Homo sapiens: one gene and its partner. The protein of the gene in region 2 interacts with the protein of the main gene of each other region in a biochemical or structural test. Each region holds a gene or a part of one and is shown on either strand. Other genes may lie near its edges.

The links.
Region 1: the proteins of KCNK3 (region 2) and YWHAB form a complex in vitro, tested with the Homo sapiens proteins (one study listed by BioGRID and IntAct).

The regions. Positions count from the first base shown.
Region 1 is NC_000020.11:44,899,040-44,902,856, reverse strand, and holds part of YWHAB (14-3-3 protein beta/alpha), read right to left. Parts: intron 1,327-3,817; 5' UTR 1,324-1,326; coding exon 1,024-1,323; intron 1-1,023. UniProt on the Homo sapiens protein: Adapter protein implicated in the regulation of a large spectrum of both general and specialized signaling pathways. Binds to a large number of partners, usually by recognition of a phosphoserine or phosphothreonine motif.
Region 2 is NC_000002.12:26,723,690-26,727,506, reverse strand, and holds part of KCNK3 (potassium channel subfamily K member 3), read right to left. Parts: exon of another isoform or gene 2,947-3,817; intron 1-2,946. UniProt on the Homo sapiens protein: K(+) channel that conducts voltage-dependent outward rectifying currents upon membrane depolarization. Voltage sensing is coupled to K(+) electrochemical gradient in an 'ion flux gating' mode where outward but not inward ion flow opens the gate.

The DNA of each region.
Region 1 (3,817 bases), on a different chromosome or scaffold from region 2:
TTACCAACAGGCAACAAATTTAGTCATGACACTCTTACGCCATGAGTCTAATAAAAAGAGAAGCTCAATGCAAAGCTTAGTTATAAGGGGATTTAATCAACCAAAGTGAGAAGATGCAGGGGGCGGCAGTCGTTTTAATATTCTTTGTAGACAGACAGTGTGTAACTCCTAATAGGTTAGGGATAAGGGGTGCTGCCTGATGGCTGACAAGCTTTATACTGGTTTTCAAAAGAAAGGAGTCATGGGCAGTAATTTAGAAAGGCAGCCAGCAGGGAAGGTGGTAGGTCCCCAAGTGTGAATTCCTTTTCCCTTCAAAGCAGCCCTCGCTGAGTTCATTTTTACCTGATTTCACCTGGAAGAAAAAGAAAGTTCCCAATGGCTCAGGATGTGCGGGAAAGACAATATGATTATGATTTGTTTTGGAGTACGTACCCCTCCCATTCAATCCCAAGTGGCGGCCAGAGGGAATCAATCATCTGACTAAGGGTTTATGTAAAATACAGGAGAGGAGAATGCCCAAAACACTTTGAATTTGGCTCTGGAATGCATGCCGAACTTGATGGATGTGCCTAACTTTCAGACCAAAGCAGGACTTTACAGTGTGAAGGCATGACTGGGGAGAGGCTGAAAGGCAGCTCAGCTTTTTCATCTCCCTCCCCTACTGGCGATGACATCACTACTCTGACTAATATACACAATAGCCTATCTGTAGCTGTATCTATTAAAATCCTGTCTATCTGGCCTCAATTTTAAAAGATGGAGGGAGGCTGAAAAAATGTCACTGTTTTTCACAGGTCTTTTTGATAGGAGAGGAAAGTATCTCAGAAGTGATGTACAACCTCTGATCAGGCAATAGGTGACACAAATTATATCATATGCTTAAAAATTAGTTGTAAATACCTGGCAGCTTTCCAGTATATTCAGACACCTCTCTCTCATAAGCTGTTTTGAGAGTCTGCATTTATACATTAAATTAATACTATTTAGAAACCACTGTTCAAAACAGAAGCACTGGCCTCTTACCAGAACATCATTGCAGATGTCCTGCAGTTCTGCCTCTATCTTCTCACGGTACTCTTTGCCCATCTGCTGCTTCTTCTCATTCCTCTCTGTTTTCTGCTCAATGCTGGAGATGACACGCCAGGAAGAGCGGCGGGCGCCTACCACATTCTTGTAGGCAACAGAGAGCAGATTTCTCTCTTCGTTGGAGAGTTCATGCCCCTGTTCTGTGACTGCCTTCATGGCTGCAGCCATATCATCATATCGCTCAGCCTGCTCAGCGAGTTTGGCTTTCTGTACCAGCTCACTTTTATCCATTGTCATTCCCTAGAACAAGAGCAAGAGAAAAAGAAAGAGCAAATGTCAGGTTTCGGGGCCTAGGAAACGTGTGTGAATCTTCTTCCAACCCATCTGGAAAGCAGCATACTAAATGTGAAACATCTCATTCCAAATGCCATCAACAATATTGATGATATATCAAACACCTCTAGGGTTAAGTACTTTGCTAAGGCCTTTATATTATTTTGGTCCAGTAATCTTCCCAACAGTCCCAGAGTAGGTATGTTCATAACAACAACTTTCCCCTTCTTATGGGTGAAGAAATGGAGGGTCAGGGAAGGCAAGTGATATGCCCAGAGCAACATGCAAATAGATGGTGGAGAGCCAGAACTCCAGCTCACATCTATCTGGCTCTAGAGCTTTTGTTTTCTTCCATTAGCCTAATTCACCTGCCTGGCACATACAGACTGCTTAATAACTATTTCTTTAGAAGTTTATGCTTACTAGCCGGGTGCAGTGGCTCACACCTGTAATCCCAGCACTCTGGGAGGCCGAGGAGGGCAATTCACGAGGTCAGGAGTTCGAGACCAGCCTGACCAACACAGTGAAACCCCATCTCTACTAAAAATACAAAAATTAGCCAGGCGTGGTGGCAGGCATTTGTAATCCCAGCTACTGGGGAGGCTGAGGCAGGAGGATCGCTTGAAACCAAAAGGCAGAGGTTGCAGTGGGCCGAGATCACGCCACTGGACTCCAGCGTGGGCAACAGAGTGAGACTCCATCTCAAAAAAAAAGTTTATGCTTACTATATATATGTCCTTGACTTCTCTCAGTAATTGTCTGGTTTGTTTTAATGACCTTAATCCAACTGTATCCTGTAATACAGGAAGTCCTCTCTTCACTGTCCTGTAAGCAACTCTGGTTTTGACTAAACCTGTTTTTTCCATAGTACAGGAAAGAGTAAGTATGATGTTTGTTTCAACCAATCCTGAAGCAAAAGATATGATTTTAAATGATCTATTTGGCTGCACCCATCAAGCAGTAGATAACTGAAGGATGGGAAAGATTATATCACATCTTCTGTAATCTGCTAACTTTGTTACTAGGACACACTGCACAGGAAGAACATAAACTAAGGGCAGTCAGACTTGGGCTCTATCTAGCACTAGCTCTGCTACTTACTTACAAGTGGCATGACCTTGGTTAAATCACTTAACCTGAGAGCTTCGGTCTCTACTGGGCAATAAGAACACTACCCAGGGCTGGATGTGGTGACTCACGCCTAGGATCCCAAGAGTTCAAGATTATCCTGGCAAATCAGTCTCTAACATAGTAAGACTTCATCTCTACAAAAGAAGAAAAAATTGGCTGGGTGTGGTGGTGTGCACCTGTAGTCCCAGCTACTCAGGAGGCTGAGGTGGGAGGATCACTTGAGCCCAGAGTTCCAGGATGCAGTGAGCCGTGACTGTGCCATTACATTCCAGCCTGGGCAACCAACTGAGACCCCTGTCTCTAAAAAAAAAAAGAAAGAACACTACCAACTCTTTTAGTGGGCCTGTTATGAGGAACAAAAGACCTGATACATGTGAAGGCACCTTAAAAAGTATAAAGCATTATATAAAAATATCAGGCACTAATTTTGTATATGGTATAGGTTGCAAGAGAAAGGGGTGTATAACAAGATGTACAGCAACATAACTTGAAACCATAACTGAATTCATCTGAACCATAACTGAGTTCATTTAAAGTTTTTCTGAAATAGACAAAAATCCTAGTGACTTCAGTTTATCAATTTATCAAATCCATATGCCAATCAGTGAATATCTCTTATCAACTCACCACAGTCAGTTCCCCACTGCAATAATCACCATTTACAGAGTGCGGTAATTTTAATAAGTAATTTTTGGATAAAATAATTGAAAAGTTATTTACTAAACAAGAAGAGTTAATTTTATGTACTGTTGGTTTAAATATTGATATATCAATCTGTGCCACACAGTATAAAAATACACTAATATCCTGAGCTATAAAAACATGAAATGCTACTTTAAACAGTAGTAGTAATGTCAGGTTTTTTTGTGTGCTTTGTCTGTTTGTTTGAGACAGAGTCTCACTCTGTCACCCAGGCTGAAGTACAGTGGTGGGATCTCGGTTCACTGCAACCTCCACCTCCAGGGTTCAAGTGATTCTCCTGCCTTAGCCTCCCAGGTAGCTGGGATTACAGGCACGTGCCACCATGCACAGCTAACTTTTGTATTTTTAGTAGAGATGGGATTTTGCCATTTTTGGCCAGGCTGGTCTTGAACTCCTAAACTCAGGTGATCTGCCCGCCTTGGCCTCCCAAAGTGCTGGGACTTACAGGCGTGACCCACTGCACCTAGCCAATGCCAGTATTTTCAAAACAAATTCTTTCATTACTACATACATGGTATCACAATTTAAGGCTCTGAAAATGATTATTTGTTTGGAGACGGAGTCTCATTCTGTCACCCAGGCTGGAGTTCAGTGACGCAACCTCGGCTCACTGCAACCTCTGCCT
Region 2 (3,817 bases):
GCTCATGCTTTCTATTGTACTCTTGTGACACCTGCAGAAGGTATGTAGGAAGGAAGAAATAAGGAGGGATGACTTCCAAGGTCACACGGCTTGGGAGCAGAACAACCGTGTTTGAACTCGAGTCCGTTTGACCTCAATGACGGGACTGTTTTGTATGCCTAGAGAAGGGGTGGCCTGGGTGCTGCTGAGAACTTGTCTAGAGGCACAGGGAGAGTGTGAGGGCACAGGTCAGCTGGGAGAGCTGGATTCTAGTTCAGTGTCCTGGGCTGCGGGCGTGGTCCTTGTCCTCTCCATGCCTCAGTTTCCTTGACTACAAGGTGAGGTGGTTGCCCTGAATGGTTTCTGACATCCTGTGATCCAGTGTACAGGAAGGGAGACTGAGGCAGGGCTGGCTTCTTGGTGGATTCCCCGCTGCCAGCCAAAGCTTATGTGGGGTTGCTTGGCAACAAGGGCCCTTCAGTCTCCCTGGGGCAGCTGGCCCACTGTGCCACAGAAGAAAGGAGACTGCCTGCCCCTCCCTGCAAGAGCAGGATGAATGAGTGTTCCAGGGTCCCCATCAGCCTCCAACTGGAGGCCTTGGGGTCTTCCTCTGTACTTGACCTGATGTAGGATCTGTCCTCATGGGGAGGTGGTGTTACCCTTGGCAAAGCAGGAGCCCTCGGTGTCTTTCCAGGTGTGTTACTATCATCAGCCAGATAATCTCTCTGTACCCCGCCCCCACCCTGGCCCACCCTGAGCCAAGATCAGGGCAGAGGCAAATGTTCCCTCTGCACCAGCCATTCCAAAGCCTAAGTTGAGAATTCTTCCGGCTAACTGGAGGGAAAATGACCCTGGATGGGAACTCATCCCTAGTGACAGGGCCCTAGTGGCTGTGTGACCTTGGGCAAATTACTCCCACTCTCTGAACATGTTTCTTCATTTGTAAAGTGTGTTTACTGGTGCTGGCCTGCTTCTTTTATTGTTGATATATTTACTACTTTTATTAACATAATTATGATAATAAAATGACGCTGGCATTTTCTTCCATTCTAAGCCTTATCAAATCTTAACCAAATGTTTCTTCTTCCATGCAGTCCTCCTGGATTCCTCACAGCTTATGATCTCTGCCTTATTTGAGTGGCACTGAAAATGTTCAGCTTGTAATTCCAGGGCCAATATTACCACCACCCCCTGTCCTCTAGGATCCCCAACTACATAGAGCTAAACACTAGCTTTGGGGGGAAGGGGTGGCACTGATGGGTCTTGTCACTTTCCTCTCTAGCTTCTACCTCCACATTGCCAGCCATACCTATGGAGGCCCAGAATATGTTTGATAACTAAATTGCAAGGCAGGATACTGTGTGACTCTGTCCTGGACTTACTGTCTCTCTCTCTCTCTCTCTCTCTCTCTCTCTCTCTCTGTGTGTGTGTGTGTGTGTGTGTGTATGCATGATTTCTCTGAGCCTTAGTTTCCACATCTATAAAATGGGGTTAATAATACACTTGCCTCACAGGACTTTGGGGAGGAATAAGTAAGATCATGTGTGTAATGCACTTAGCCCAGAGCCTGGTACCTATCAAGTGCTCAATAATGGCTCACTGTGATTAATAATGAGTGAAGTGCCAGATTACTGTCATGTTTCCAAGAGAGCAGCCAGGCTTGAGGGCAGCTCAGTTCCAGTAAAGCTGGCACCTCTGTCAACCCAGGGCCATTTGGATCTTAAAGCTCAAGGAGCTCTGGGGACAGCTGCTTGGGGCTGCCCTTAGAACCAGCTCCCCTGACCCCCTCCACAGCGTCGGGCCAGTAACTGTGTCACCATTTGCTAGGGACCTGGACAGCTGAGCTGTAGAGCCACTGTGCTTAGGACGTCTGTGCTCCAGTAGGGTGAGAACAGATTGTGCCCGCCAGCTGGGCCATGGCAGCCAGACCACAACTCACCTCGACAACTGGGCAGGCCCTGAGCCAGAGCTGCTTCTCATCCCGTCCTTCCCTGTCCTCCAGGCCGGCACTACTTGGTGGAGAGGGGAGGGCATGGCACCATGGATGGGGCTCAACAGGAAGTAGGGAGCATGGACATAGCCCCAGCTTGGCCACGTGATAGCTGTGTGACCTTGGACAAATCCCTACCCCTCTCTGGGCTCACTTGTCTTTCCTACACTCTGGAAGATTGAGCTAGAGCTATTAACCCCCACCCTCGCTGCCCGCCAGAGCCCTCTGCAGGAGCACAGGAGAGACTGGGCGTTAGAGCTCTTTGGAAGCTGTAGCTTGCGAGATGGAAGCAGTGGTCGTGGGATCTCACAGGGGAAGGGTGACCTGAGAGCATGGGCCTGGGGGCAGGGCCATCTCTGTGGGGTCAGGCAGACACATACCACCATCAGGGGCCCTCACCCCCTCTCTGCCACCACTGCTCCCTTGTCCTGTGTTTGTCATAGGCCGTGACTTCCCTGGGCCCACCGTCTCTTAGGAAAAGCCAGTGCCCCCTGTCTGGCAGCCTCACTGCCCACTGTGACTGTGCTCACAAAGCGCCCAGCTTCAAGGAGCCACACATCCCTTCCTTGCCCTTCTTTTGCTATACCCTGCGGCCACCCCAGAGACCCGTCCTTAGCCCACACCCAGCCAAGCCGGCCCCTCCTCTCCACAGTGCTTCCCACACTGCCTCGTGGCCCTCCTTCGCCTCTCCTACCCCAGCCCACAAAGACCTAGCTCCTCAGGACCCAGCTTCAGCTGCAAGTGACAACCCCTTCCTCTGCCCTTCATCCTGTTGAACTTAGTGACTTTCAAAGCAAATGACACATCCAGGCTTAACCAGAGGCTCTTATCCCAGGCAGCACCTCATGCTCCACCACAGCCACTGCCCTGTCCAGGCAGCCCTGGCCTAGATGTGCCTCCTCTTTGGGGTCACATGCCCCCAGGGCTCAATCTCACTTCCTACCGCAGGCTGAGGCTTAAGAATAATAAGTTCTTACCCTTCAGATGTATTTTTAACTTAATCCTCAAAAACTTCTTACAAGGTCACTATTATGATTATCTTCATATTACAGTTGGTGTCATGAAGTCCAGAGAGGCCTTGGGTGTTGGCCAAGGCCACTGGGCCTTTCTGACTCAGCATTCATTCCGGTACGTGGGAGCCAATGCATCACCCAGGAAGGGCGACCAGGCCGGGAGGCCTTGGGAGGAGAGCATTTCACTTGGGCATCAGCCTCAGGCGTTGCTCTGAGCCAGTTGCAGCAGAGGTGGTAACAGGAGGGCCATGCTCAGGCAGTCAGACGCTTCTCCAAGTATCCGGCTTAGGGTGCCCCCCACCCCATTGCCTGTCCCATTGTCACTGGGTGAAAGGGCAAGGGAGTGTGAGGACCTGCTGACGTGGGCGCCCAACTTGGAGGGGTGCCAGCTGGGTGGAGCCACTCCCAGGGGGCCCTGGAGCTTCTGGGAAGTAAGTGGGAGTTTGGCAAGACCCGTCTGCCTGCCAGCAGGCCCGCTGCCTGCCTGGTCCTTGCCCATGTCGCGCTTGGCTTTATGAGGCAGGGGGCAAAAGGTGTTCTCTATCTTCTCTCCTCTGTCCAGGCCTTCGAGTCTCTGGGTGAGGGGCTGCATCTGTCCTTCTGTGTGGCTGACTCTCTGAGGACCCTCTCTCGCAGTACCTGCTGGGCTGATCAACCAGAGCAGATGTTCTGACCGGGAGACTCTGGCCACTGCCTCTCAGAAAACTACCAGGACTATCCATACCGCCTCCTCTCCCAGCCTCCTCTCCCTGAATCCAACATAGGTTTTAAGGTTCTCAGATCCAGAAATACCCTTAGCCATCATTTGGTTCAGTCTTTACATCGTACAGATGAG